Linked DNA regions of Homo sapiens. The protein of the gene in region 4 purifies or fractionates together with the protein of the main gene of each other region. This does not show direct contact. Each region holds a gene or a part of one and is shown on either strand. Other genes may lie near its edges.

Evidence for each region. Proteins that work in one complex are often made in the same cells at the same time.
Region 1: the proteins of TIPRL (region 4) and CTSC fractionate together in Homo sapiens (co-fractionation; one large-scale study listed by BioGRID). This does not show direct contact.
Region 2: the proteins of TIPRL (region 4) and EFL1 fractionate together in Homo sapiens (co-fractionation; one large-scale study listed by BioGRID). This does not show direct contact.
Region 3: the proteins of TIPRL (region 4) and ZKSCAN1 purify together in Homo sapiens (affinity purification with mass spectrometry, with the first as the bait; one large-scale study listed by BioGRID). This does not show direct contact.

Annotation. Positions count from the first base shown.
Region 1 is NC_000011.10:88,296,415-88,299,736, forward strand, and holds part of CTSC (dipeptidyl peptidase 1 isoform a preproprotein), read right to left. Parts: intron 1-3,322. UniProt on the Homo sapiens protein: Thiol protease. Has dipeptidylpeptidase activity. Active against a broad range of dipeptide substrates composed of both polar and hydrophobic amino acids. Proline cannot occupy the P1 position and arginine cannot occupy the P2 position of the substrate.
Region 2 is NC_000015.10:82,151,235-82,154,734, forward strand, and holds part of EFL1 (elongation factor-like GTPase 1), read right to left. Parts: intron 1,190-3,500; coding exon 231-1,189; exon of another isoform or gene 217-230; intron 1-216. UniProt on the Homo sapiens protein: GTPase involved in the biogenesis of the 60S ribosomal subunit and translational activation of ribosomes.
Region 3 is NC_000007.14:100,014,264-100,018,395, forward strand, and holds the start of ZKSCAN1 (zinc finger protein with KRAB and SCAN domains 1), read left to right. Parts: upstream 1-1,332; 5' UTR 1,333-1,463; intron 1,464-4,132. UniProt on the Homo sapiens protein: May be involved in transcriptional regulation.
Region 4 is NC_000001.11:168,195,962-168,199,285, reverse strand, and holds part of TIPRL (TIP41-like protein), read right to left. Parts: intron 2,740-3,324; coding exon 2,644-2,739; intron 368-2,643; coding exon 305-367; intron 1-304. UniProt on the Homo sapiens protein: May be a allosteric regulator of serine/threonine-protein phosphatase 2A (PP2A). Isoform 1 inhibits catalytic activity of the PP2A(D) core complex in vitro. The PP2A(C):TIPRL complex does not show phosphatase activity.

The sequences.
Region 1 (3,322 bases), on a different chromosome or scaffold from region 4:
CATTGTTGAGCTTATTAAGGCAATCATTAAGATTTCATCCTTTTTCATCAAAAGGCAAACATTAGTACATGGGACTTTCTTTGAGAATATTTTAGAAACTAAAAAAACCCCTCATAATTTCTGAGAAGCTTTTGGCAATATTCTTGATAATGATGAAAGGATTTATGTCTACAACGTTCAAAGCCATCAGGTTGGGTGATGGAGGAATACATGTGAGCTGTGGAGGAATACACGTGAGCTGAGCTTTCAAATATCTCTAATGCAATGAGATGAAGGTTTATGTCCCTCTAAAATCATGTTAAAACCCCAATCCCAAAAGTGATGGTCTTAGGAGGTGGGGCCTTTGGGATTAGTGACCTAATACAAAAGGCTCCAGAGAGAACTCTCATCCCTTCTACCATGTGAAGTTATAGAGAGAAGTCAGCCTGTGAGTCCTATTTCCTTTTAACTACTGCCATTTCTGATGTTCCCTAAAATTCTCCCCCTAAAAATCTCAGATTGACCATATTGTACACTGTTTTGCTACTGAGAGATTATCTAAATTATGAAGATTAGAAAAGCACTTGGAAGAAGGACCTGTGAATTCATCTAGTGTACAACCTGCTCACTTGATAGATAACGTGTAACGGTGGCTCAGAAAGAAGCAATGAGCTGTCCAAGGACACACAGCTAATAGATAGCAGGGACAAGTGCCTTACTGTCTCCTAAGGCAGGATTAGTGTCCTTTTCAATTTATGGGTCTGTGTCTACTTTAACAAATATTCAGATTTTCTCTCCCTGTCTCGTAGTCACTAGACAGGGCAAAATTAGCTTATATCTTTTGTTTTCAAAACCATGCAGATGATACTATCCATAGGACCCATCCTTCAAATGACGGAATGTCAAAGAACATTGTACATTGTACACTGAACATATAACTGTGTTCAGCAGTACCTTCCAACAGTGAAGAACACACTGAACTAGGAGTGAGGATACTTTTTTTTTCCTCCTTTCTTGTTTTGCCCCTCATTAGCTGTGCAACACTGGACAACTTACAAATACACCTTGGCGCCTCATGAAAGGAAACCAATGTCAAAGAAATAACACAACCCAGGAGAGTCTGGAAAAGGTCCCTTTCTGACCACCCAGCTTTCTTGGCCCATAGCAGCCATGGAAATAATCTCTCTCAGTACTGGTCATTAAACTCCCATTATCTGACCATCGATCACTGTGGGAGGCACAGGCTGCAAGTGCATTCAAGGGCTCTGAATGTGTTCTATTTACAGAGCAATCACAGGAACAAGGGAAGAAGATAAACTTCATCAAGCCCCTGACCTGTAAGAATGTGTCAGCTACCAAGGTAATTAATGCCTCATTTCAACAGCCAAGGCCAATCTGATTCTAAAAGAGCCATTTATCTCTTAAGAATACTGCAATGCAATAAAGAATAAGAAGTGAATCTAGCCCAGCCAGAGCTCTGCAGTAATCAAATTTCTACAATCTCAAATAGATAGTGTGATCTTCATATGGTATAACTATGTTCAGCAGCACCTTCTAACAGTGAAGAACACACTGAACTAGGAGTCGGGAGTCAGGATTCTTTTTTTTCCCCTCCTCTCTTGTTTTGCCTATCATTAGTTGTGCAACACTGGGCACTTGACCTTTTGACACTGTTTTTTTCTTTTTAATCTTTTGTGTAAAATGAATTGGGTGGAGCAGTTTAAGGTCTCTGCCTTCCTGCTCAAATAATATAAATAGCATTTTGAAACAAGACTTAAATGGACTAGACTTTACGCATTATGAAAACACTCTGTATTTCCTAATTAATGTGACCCAGGAGAGACACTTCCCTTCTCTCTTAAAAATACAATAATAAATAAAAACAGCATAGCTGGGAGAAGAACAAAGAAAGCCCATTCTGCCGTATTTCTAAGCTTCTCTTCCCTCTCATACCTCAAAGTATTAATAAATCTAGGTATAAGGCTTGTTCTTAAATCTGTTTTCAAGTGTAAAGGTAAAACCTCATTTGTCCTCCCACTATTTCTTTTTTCTTTAATTTCAATTTGCTCTCTGACTACAGAAAAGCTGTGAATTCCCTTAATTGCAGCTAATTCTGAATTCTGGGTTATACAGAACACTGGTATTGGCAAAGTTGGTGGGAATTTTCAAGTAGCCCAATTAGCAGGAAGAGAAAATACTTTTTTCCCCAACTTACAGTATAGAATACCAAAAGAAAGTCAAAAGAGGAAACTTTAAGTACATTATTTTCTCAAGTACCTGACAAGATACTGTAGATGAGGGATCAATTCAAAGCAATTAATCCATCAAAGCCCTCTGTTTTGAAATTGCCATTTCTCTGTACAAATCATACTTATAACAGTCAAAGAATAAAGAACATGGGAGAAAATAACAGCTTTTACCAAGCTATATGAAAACCAATGTCAAATAATTTGGCTTTAGAAAGTCGAATTTCCTTTCCCTGAATTATTATCTCATATAACTTGTCAATCATTTCTTTTGGGAAGGGTTTGCTAAACTCTTCTACCTTCTCTTATGTTACCAATGAATTTAAAAAATGCTTTATTAAAGTAGTTATCATGCTTTACTTTAATGTTTTGCTTGTATGTCTTGCTAAACTGTAAATCACTAGGACAAGGACTATGTCATATTAGTCTTCATTTCCTCTGCCATTAAAAAAATCCTAATATATTTTAGATGTTCTGGTAACAACACCAGAAGCAACACTATAGTATCAGTAGCTCAAATTATATCATGCCAATGCTATCATGTGCCAGGACCTCAATGATAAAGTCAACACATAATATGCACTATGAATTAATCCTCTCAGGCACAAAAAATCTATTTGGTGATAGCATAACTTGCAATCTCTTAACATGGACCCTTCAATTTCACTTTCCATTCATTTCTCAATTATCTTCAAATTTATCTTATTTCCAATCCCACTTTCCAAAGAAGCCCTCCCCAGGAAATTGAGAAGGTAGGGAAAGATTTCAGGACCTATACTTTCTTTAGAGCTGAAGAGCCCAGAATAACTGGTAGAAAAGCAAAGAGACGAGACCCTTGGTGTCAGATGAAAAACAGAAATGTTGCTGACTGGCTGTTATAAGACCCACTTGGGGCTCTCAACATTCAGAACACTGCAAGAATTCAGTGAGATGGGAGCTTGGAGGGCAAGTGATGAAAATGAGACACGGCAGAGACTGATTATCACTAAAAGTTTAGGAAAGGGAAACAACAGTTTATCTTTGGGTACTATAAATTTATAATCCTCCCAGGAGACACTAATCAGAATGTTTCCAGACAGCAAATACTAAACCTATTT
Region 2 (3,500 bases), on a different chromosome or scaffold from region 4:
AAACTTAGCTGCACATGGTGGTGTGTGCCTGTAGTCACAACTACTTGAGAGGCTGAGGTGAGAGGATTGCTTGAGCCTGGTAGGCAGAGGTTGCAGTGAGCCGAGATTGTGCCACTGCACTCCAGCTGGGGCGACAGAATGAGACCCTGTCTCAAAAACAAGATTTTGAGTCTAGGAGACTTCACTGTTATTCAGGGCATTTCTCACTATCTTTACCTTTTCTTCCTTACCGAGAACATCACCAGTGGCCATGATGTCACATGTGTACATAGCTGCCATCAGGCGCTGAGGTTTCACTTGCAGTGCATAGCGACATGCTTCTTTCATGGTGGCAATTAGCTGTCCTGAGAAAGGTCCATAGCAGTCAGTGAGTGGAGATTCTCCTTTCTGTGATGTCCTCTTCTCAAAGGCCTCAGAGCAGCCATCTTGTAGCTCTTGGTTTTCATTTCCACCAGAACAGGTTTCATTTTCCTCCTGTCCCTCTTTTGCCAGATCACTTGCTCCTTGTTCCTCAAATTTACTTAGGTCCCATTTTTCCAGAACAAAACAGACACCCATGAGAGGCTCCTCACACATGGGGCCAGAGAGGGTTGCTAGTTGGAAGCCACTCACAATGCTATTGCCCAAATCTCGGTATCTACTGGCTTCTTTTGAAGCTTTGTCAGCTGGACCTGTCCATACTGAGTTCTGAAAATCTTCACTTTTATTGACTAGTATGTTGGGCCCACATTTTCTTGGGCCAAATGACCAGATTTGGTCAACAATGTTCCTCCATCTTCTCCCTGTTAGGTGTTGCTCCAGTTTTCCTTTGAATTCCCAAATTTTCTCTTGGGTCTTCTGATGAATCATGTGAGTATTTTCACCCTCATTCAAAGAGGATGTCAACTGCTCCATAGAACGAATCAAATCACTATTTTCTTCCAGAATCTGGGTGACTTCTTCTGGAAGGGGCATGGCTCGAACACTGAGCGTGGCAAGTTTATTGGGAGTTGTTATGGTGATTAGCCCGTCAGAGTCAACTTGGATTCCTTCAGGGATTTTGCTTTGATCTTCTTTCATTTGGTGTATGACTGCAACTTTTTGCTGTTTGCCTATTTCTTCATTGACCATGTCAACTTTTGGGGGTTTTGTGATTGTTTCTCTGAATGGAATAATAGGTTCAGATACACTGATATGAATCTTTGCAAACCTACAGACAAATTCAAGAGAAATAACAGAAGGTTAAAATCAAAATAGCATCAAAGCTCCTGTGTAGAAATTACTACACAGTGGAGATTCTGTAAAAACATAGGAACATAAAAATTATCTTACTATGAAAGATCTGCAATTTACATTATATAACATTCAAAAACTGCTTTCTTTCTGATTGAAAAGACTACTTCTAATGGGAATATACCTCCAGGGAAATCCTTGCATGTACTGGAATTTCACTTTTTTTTTTTTCATTTTCAAGATATATAAACCACCCATTTAGATAAGAATGTTTTGAGCAGAAAATAAATGTTTTAATATATGAAATATGAATGCTTTAAAACAGTATTTGCCCATCTAAGAGTGTGGAGAAGAAAAGCTCAATGATTAAAACTCTAAATAGACATAGAATCACAGAACCTCAGGATAGCTAGTCAAATCTTCACAATGTATTTGGCTTTGATAATGAGGCTTATAGCAAGGCTAGCATGATCCATGAGTTTGTCTAGAGCAGCACTTTCCAAAAGAACTTTCTGCAATGGTGGAAATGTTCTATATGTTTATTGTGATTGCTGAGCCCTTGAAATGTGGCTAGTACAGCTGAATAAATTTTTAATTTTATTTAAATTTAAATAGACACATATAGCTACTAAGCATTTGAAATGCGGCTAGTATGACTGAGGAACTAAATTTTTAATTGTATTTGATTTTAAACAGCTGCATGTGGGTAGAAGCTACTCTTCTGGACATCATAGGTCTTGAGCCCCAGTCTGCCACCAAGTTCAGAAAGCCCCTTTTCCCACATAATATCAAATTTGATATTGTTGTATATTGTATATTTACAATCTTTTTGTATATTCACAGGATATACAACAAGATGGACCCGACATTGTATGTTTTTAAAACTACTTTGATATTCAAACCTGACAAAGACAGTATATATACACAAAACTGCAGTTCAATCTTACCTAAGAATTCAGATATAAAATCTAAGATAAAATAACAAAAACTATGGATATGCAGGTGTGTGCATTAAAAAAAAACTTATTATGTATGAGGCACTGTGTTAAGTGTTTTACATGTAGTATTTCTTTAGTAGGCACTAGTACTATCTAATTTTGTAGAAGAGAAAACCAGATAAGAAAGATTAAGTAATTTCTCCAAATAGTCTGTAAGTGAAGAAGCTAGGATTCAAATTTAGGTCTGACTTCAGAATTCACACTCTCAGTCATTATGCTATACTGAAAAATGAAGTTACTCAGTACATTAAAGGAATAATTTACTACAACACTACGAAGTTTGTATTATAGGTTATATGAAAATTAATTTGTATTAGATCTGTTAATACCACATTAAAAATATCAAATAATCTATGTAGCCACTTTTAAATATGCTAAATTGGCATTCAATAAGATTCAATACCTATTCTTGATTTTAAGAAAAAAGCCACTTAAAAATCTTAGGAATAGGAAAATATTTCTAAAATTATCATTACATAGAGAAAAATATGCTCATATACTTAGAACACTCAAGAAAACCAACGGCAAAGCTTCTGAAACTACGAGAGAGAACACATCTACAACACTGCCCTCTTATTCCTGTAACATAGTCAAAAGAGCTATGAGCCACTTTAGTCCTTCTAATTCCTGAGGCTCCCAAGAAGTCTCCTGTAGTAATCATTTATATGATTAATTAAAACCACTCCAAGCTGTGGAAGGAAGTGTGTGATGGTTGCCACACTCACAAAGCACCTCAGGACCAAAGGTTCTTTAAGTCCTAGCAATGCAGAGCCTGTGATGACACTAAAAAAAGTGCGGTAGGCTCAGGCTACATCATGGCAATTTCCTGTGGCTTCCTGCTCTGATTATTACTACCTTGAGATCTGGATGCTAAGAATTCTGACAGTTTCTCTGGCCTGGAGACAATATAGTCTCCTTGTCTCCCATTCCTGGACATAATCCATTCCTGAAGATGTGTGTAGAAGTTGAAAAAGATTATATACTACCAAAAGGTAGGCTCTGTCCTATGAGAACTAAACAAATTCTATAACATTATACACATTCTTAATGTAAGCATAATTGTGAAATGTAATAGTCATATAGAACAGTGCACAAAACAAAAATCTACTGATCTATGATAACTTACCTCAAAGTGAACACCCATGTAAACTACATGGTATAGTCAAGAAACAGAACAGTCTTAGCCCTCAGAGGGCCCCAATGCCATTAAGTATGAAGGTAACTGCTATCCTGATTTTTATTGTAATAGCCTCCATTTTTTTTAAATCACCTAACCATGTAACCCCTTAT
Region 3 (4,132 bases), on a different chromosome or scaffold from region 4:
CCACTGGCACACACTACCCTGCACCCAGCTAATTTTAGTATTTTTTGTAGAGAGAGGGTCTCATTACGTTGCTTAGGCTGGTCTCCAACTCTTGGGCTCAAGAATCCTCCCGTCCCAGCCTCCCGAAGTGCTAAGATTACAGGCTTGAGTCATCGTGTCTGGCCCTGTCATTGCTTTTTAGTTTTCAAACATTTTTTAAAAAGTAAATCTGGCCGGGCACGGTGGCTCACGCCTGTAATTCCAGCACTTTGGGAGGCTGAGGCGGGTGGATCACAAGGTCAGTAGATCGAGACCATCCTGGCCAATATGGTGAAACCCTGTTCTCTACCAAAAATACAAAAATTAACCAGGCATGGTGGTGTGCGCCTGTAGTCCCAGGTACTCAGGAGGCTAAGGCAGGAGAATCGCTTGAACCTGGGAGGTGGAGGTTGCAGTGAGCCAAGATGGTGCCACTGCACTGCAGGCTGGGTGACAGAGCGAGACTCCATCTAAAAAAAAAAAGTAAATCTCTCCAAGCAGTAAGAGTCATGCAACCAAGCTACTGAGTTTCTCCCATGAACTTGTCTCGGAACATAGTGGAAAGTCACAACCATTAAAGCCTGTAGTCCCCCCCACCCTTGCACAACGTGGCCCCCTCTTATGCGTGCCTTACCCTGCAAGGCAAAGATGAAGGCTGTAACTGTGGTAGGTTGTGAAAGCACTTTGAAGGTAAAAGTGTCTGTTGTTACTCTGAAAACTCCTTTTAAACGGCTATAATAGCATATGCCACATGAGCAAAGCACAGAACCTTATAACTATGCTTGCTTGTGGAAAGACATCCCTTGTCCACGGGCCAAGTATTTGAAAATACCACTCCATATAGCTCCAGGGCCCTGAGAGAAGCTACCGTGGCAGCTTTGGGAAACCAGCCACCCTTGGCTTCACTTTGATCTTCCTCAGTCTACATCCTTGTTTCAGTTCCTTTGCCACAGACATACAATTACCAAGTACTATATTGCTTGATAATAACTATAATTACTACAAGGACTGCCTGAGATGAAAAAGACAGGTGAAATCGAACTTTCACATGGACTGGTGTCTGAGCTGGAGAGTCTGTTTGAGTTTGAGTAGGGGAAAGCCTGAAACCCCCCACCACCTGCTCCCGTTAGTCCCTGCATTAACTAGGGGCGGACTGGGACCTGATCCTCCAAGCTGGAGGCTTGAAAACTCAAGGGCAGGCGCCTGGTCCAGCGATTCGGAAACCGAGATGCAAAGTCCTCCCGCGCTCCTAGAGAGGACCCGGAAGCGCGGCGCGGTCCCGGAAGACGAGGTGGTGACACGCTTCCGGCCTTTGTGACTCATTGTGTCTGTGTCGAGGCGTCGGGAGGGCCTAAGTCCGTGTGCGGTGCCCTTCGGCCGGCCTGAGCCCCAGAGTCAGCTCCCCTTTCTCGCCCAGCGCCCCCAGGCCGCTCCCGGGGCTCACGGTGAGACTTGGGGCCGGCCTCTGGGGTGGGAGGGCGGGGCCGCAAGGGTGTGTGCGCGAGGGTGGGCTCCGCAGCTGCGGCCCTGGGACCCCCTCCAGGCGGCCCCGCTGTTGTGCGAAGAGAGTCCATGCCCCTGCCTCCTGGCCGGGCCCGGCCGTAGAAAGCGCCGTTCTTCCTGGGAGACGTCCCCGCCCCACCCCCAGGATCAGGCGGGGAGGGGGCGAGGGTTTCAGTGGCTGAGGGTGCCCGGAGACCCGGGGAGAAGCCGTCTGTGGGCCCCTCTCCCGCAGTGTCGTCATCGCCCTTTGACGTTTCTGCAAACGGGGTCGCGAGCGAACCGACCCCGGTCTTGATTTTTCTGCTCTCCCTTAGTCGCCATTTGCTTTGATTCCGGTGAGGTGTCTTTTTCCCCCCCCGGTTCCTTCGGGACCTCGAGGTGAAATGAGCGGAAGGATGAGAGATGGACACATTTTGAGGTGCCGCATACGTTTCCAGACCTGCCTTTCCTTCTCCCACCCTCATCACTGAGCGGTGATTAAAGAGTATTTGAAGCCTAGTCATAGTGGATAAATAGGTGATTGGGATCTAGTAGAGATTATATACACCCCACTCTTTCAGCTTGATGGAATGCTTTGAAGGCTTTGGAAAAGAGCTGTCCGGGACGTTAGGTGGATTTTTCAATTCTGGATAGTTGCTCTGTTTGACATGGAGTGGGGTGAGAAGTGAAGGGAATTTGTGGAAATTGCACTGTGTCACTAGGAGACTGATTAGCTGAGTGACCTTGGATAAGACGAGACACTCACCAAGTCTTAATTTCGTCATCAATAAAAACTAACTGGATTTTCTCAAAAGGCCCTTCCGACTTCGAAATGATTTGGTCAATGTAATTGAAGAATTAACTACAGTTTAGCTTGACACTCCTCCATCCCTCCCCTCCCTTTCCTGCAGTGCCCCCTGTACACAGTAAGATACTTTCATTATAGAGAGTGGCTGTTCCATGGCCTGGGACCAAAGAAAGCATTTATTGTACGGGCCAGTGCTAGGCGGATTGGAGGCGGTCAATAAATACTTGTTGAATTGAATTGTGGAGAATTCATTGTAACCACATCAGCAAAGCACTGTTAGTATATATGCTGAACAAATGTGGAGAAATCGCTGTTTTACATAGGAAACCATGGTGATTTGCCCCAGAATGTGTATCCAGGTTTGTATCTTCTCTGAATTAACATATAAGATTCTTGTTTATTATTTCAGGCAGTTTTCACCACTCTTAAAATACAAACGAGGAAGCTAGCTACTTAGTCTTTTGCTCATTCTCGATTTAAAAGCATTTAAAATACAGATGAATAGCATATTAAATCTAACATTTTCATTCTGTGGGAGTATCAATATTCTTTGAATAGCTAGCTGTCTTTTAAGGTAGCTTTTTCATATTAAAACATTTGATTGCTCTTTAAAAAAATGAGTGTAAAGGGCAAAGGGCAATTTATTTAAAAAAAAATTTTTTTTTTTTTGAGACAGAGTCTTGCTCTGTCGCCCAGGCTGGAGTGCAGTGGTGCGATCTCGGCTTACTGCAACCTCTGCCTCCCGAGTTCAAGCGATCCTCCTGCCTCCGCCTCCCGAATAGCTGGGACTACAGGCATGTGTCCCAAGGCTTGGCTGATTTTTGTATTTTTAGTAGAGACAGAGTTTCGCCATGTTGGCCAGGCTGGTCTCGAACGCCTGATCTCAGGCAGTCCGCCAACCTCAGCCTCCCAAAGTGCTGGGATTACGGGCGTGAGCCACTGTGTGCCCAGCCTTTGTTTACATTTTCAAGACTATGCCCTGGAAAAATACTGGGCTGTTTGGAACACAGCCTTTGAGCTTGTAACTTCAAGCCGTTGTTTAAGAAAATCATTTCTGTTTATCCTAGGTGAGAACTGAGGTATCCTTAGCTGCTGGAGGTAATTTTATTTAAAGTGGATGGTATGTCAGTATGTTTTTCAGCCCATATTCACCCAGAGGTAGTTTCCTACTATCTGGAACCCCCACCCTACCCCCATTTGACTGATAAAGATACAAAATGCCAGAGAAGTTAAATACCTCTCTCAGGGATGTGCCACTTACTTGTGGGAGACTAGAATTCAGTTATTGCCTGTGCAGCTTTCACTATTACAGGAGTTGTCCCATTGCTTAATCTTCTAAGCAGGCTGAAAATTGGAATGTACAGTTACATCTTTTAAGCTTATTGAAAAAAATTAAGACATTTCTGTAGTGCCTACTAAATGCCAGGCACTATTTTAAGTGCTTTATATCTATTACCTCATTTAATCCTCACGGCAACTCTATGGGACAAATGCTGATTTTTATTCCCATTATACAGATGAGGAAACTGACGCATAGAGAGGTTAACTTGTTGACTTGCCTAAGGCCGTCAACTAGTAAGGGGTGGAGCAGCTTTAATGCTAACCTGAAACTCATCCAACTAGTCCATGGAACAAATTTGAGTGCAACATTGAATGTAGAATGATCGGGCTTTTAAAAAATAGTAACGTTGTCAATTCAGTCAAGTGTATTTTTGAAACTGAGGCTTGCAAGGAATCATGCTAAGTGGTCTAAGGAGTACAAAGAGGACTGCTCTTAATAATCTAGTTGAGGAAGAAGGCAAGAAAAATTACAGAGAAAGAAAC
Region 4 (3,324 bases):
ACATCCATCACCAGCCAGCTATGTGACTCAGAGTAAGTCACACCTCTGGGTTTCAATTTCTCTAGAACAAAATGTGAAAATTAGATTAGATGAGGCTTAAGTACCTAGCAGCTCTAAATGTTCTTGTATTTGAGGTAAGGTCAGAAAAGTTATGCTCCCATAGAATTTATCCTATAGAGCCCCATTAGGTGAATGAATGGGTTTAGGGATGTAAACTTGGGTGGTTGGGGTCAGGGGTATATGCTACTTAAATTAAAATGAAACATTAAAATTAACTTCTAAAAACTGAAATTTAAGTACTTGCCATCAAACTAGAAATTTTGCTTTCTCGTGACGTATATTCTCGTAACATGTAGGTCTTGTCAGCCTGTATTTAAAAATAAACAGTTGCAATAAATTTAATTATACTGATTTACAAAATCCTTTGTATTAAAAACAGACTGCCTACATTTTAGGATAGGTTGTCAAAACAGCATGCAGTCTAAAGAGAACATCTTGTTCTACACTGAGATAACTCCTATTTAACTCAAATTGGATTATTATTTCCAATTTCTATACATTATAATGATGATACACATATGTAAACAGATTTTATAATTACCATGTAAGAGAAACATAGCAAAGATTTTACTTTGAAAGAATATGTATATAAATGAATAATGTATATAATGAATTTGTATAAATGAAATATGCAAGAGATTTTAAAATTACTTCAAGTTTGAAACATCTTTCCCTTAAGCTATCTTATCATTTACCTACGTAATTGTGCTACTTTTATGTTGCAAAACATGCTTTAAAATTTTTATTCTTTCCCATTCCATAAAGCTCTTACCAAATAGCTTACTTAAAATCACCTTTTTTGTACTTCAATTTTTCCCATTTAAGATTTTTGGTTAGGTTTTAGAACAGCAACTTATTATAATTTACTTCTTGAAACACTTTTCAATAAAAGAAAAGCCACAAAATTATATGCCTTTAAGGTTTCACTCTCTTGTATTAATAAAAACAGATTAATAGTCACTGTAGGAAAAAAATCAAATAATATAAAAGTATAAATCATCAGTGATCACAGCTTATAGGTAACACTATCTTTAATACTTAGAAATCTCTACAGAGAATCTTATGTAAGTAGATTCATACTTGCTTTTGAAAGTTCAACACTGAAATGAATATCTTTCAAAATTACTTAAATATCAATCTCTGCAACCAATTTTAATAATTATATATTTTATACCATATGGATATAAACAATTTAATTAATGGCCATTTAATGGGCATTAAGTTCCTACTTTCCTTCCTTTCTGCTATTATAAACAATACTACTGTGAATATTCATGTACGTATAACTCTGAGTAATTGCCCAATTAATATTAGTAGATTATTATATAAAAGAATCTTTTTAGGATAAATTCCTAAAATTCAATATTGTTTAATTAAAACAGTATTTTTAACATTTAGGCCAGGAGCGGTGTGGCTCACGCCTATAATCCCAGCACTTTGGGAGGCCGAGGCAATTGGATCACTTGAGGTCAGGAGTTCAAGACCGGCCTGGCCAACATGGTGAAACCCCATCACTCCATTAAAAACAACAACAACAAAATTGCCAGGTGTGGTGGTGGGCGCCTGTAATCCCAGCTACTAGGGAGGCTGAGACATGAGAATTGCTTGAACTCAGGAAGCAGAGGTTGCAGTGAGCCAAGATCGCGCCACTGCATTCCAGCCTGGGCAACAGAGCAAGACTCCATCCATCTCAAATAAATAAATAAAAATAAAATTTAGATTTCTCTTTCTGGGGAACAAAAATATAGCTTATGTTTAGTACTTTGCCACCACTTTTAAAAGAAAAAAGGTCTATCACTATAACCATGTTATTTCAAGAAAAAATCCCTAAGTGAAGGGTTTAGAAAGCATCAATCCAATCCTATCCTACTAGGTTCAAATTCCAATTCTGCCACCTACTAACTGTATAACTTAGGTATGTTTCTTTTTTTTTTTTTTCTTTGAGACAGGGTCTTGCTCTGTCACTGCAGCCTCAACCTTCACCAGCTCAAGCAATCCTCCCACCTCAGCCTCCCAAGTAGCAGCTAGGACTACAAGTCCGTGCCACCATGCCTGGCTAATTTTTTGTATTTTTAGTAGAGACAGGGTTTCACCATGTTGGCCAGGCTGGTCTCGAACTCCTGATCTCAGGTGATCTACCCACCTCGGCCTCCCAAAGTGCCGGGATTACAGGCGTGAGCTACGGCGCCCGGCCTTGGCCTGATTAATATATTAATGTACTTCCTGTATATTAATGTACATCAGGACATTACATAAACAACATATACTGTAAACAAAGGTAAGAGTTAAAGGACAGTTTTCTTAAACATGGATTAAGTACATACAAAATTGTCTCAAAAGACCCCTCCCCAATTAGGGAGTGTCTTTTAGAAAACATTTTGAGTCACCAGAACCTTTGTAAAAGGAAATGTAATGTTTTGATGATAGCCTGCAGTCAACAGTGAATGTGAAACACTCAGACTTAACAGTTAGAAAGACTGCCATATAATATAGATTGTTTAATTTCAAATTCTCAGATTGACAATTAAACAACACAAACAAGCCCAGTATCAATTAGTATATTCATTAAACAACAATAAATACCTCATGGTAAAGTCTCGTGTCATTCATTCTGATAAGCACCCCATCAATTCTCAAGAAAAACCGCAACAGCAGGAAAAAGCTAGAAGGCATTACTCTCTGGAAAAAAAAAAAAAGGTACATTAATATTTTAATAAAAATTAAACATTTTATTACTTTGCTGAAAGAAAAAATTTGAAAACAAAAAACAAAAAAACCCTGGAATAAGGCTGAATTCACAGTTTATAAAAATCTCTCAACTAGAAGCTCTTTGTCCTAGCTCCAACTAGCCTCAAAACCTTGTGCAAACTATTTAACATCATAGTTTCGGTTTCCTAAAATATTTTTTCTAGGTGAGGAGATATTGAGGTTTAAAAGACTTAAAAACATACCCAAGTAATGTAAAAATTATAATGTTTATTTCAAAAAATGGCAGGTACTGATAGTAAATGTCAACACCAATAAAACCAAAATGAAAGAACAACCTAGTTCTTTGTCACTACTCACCTATTCACTTTACATAAAACAAAGCAACAGACCTTACACAGAATGCTCTAATTCAGTGCAACCTGTAGGCACTATTACATATTGCTAAAGACCTGGTTTATCAGAACACTATAACACATTCTTAACATCTTTCATCTGTGGCACATCTACAAATTCCTCTGCTTTCCAAGTATAACTACTAATGATAGGCAGAATCAG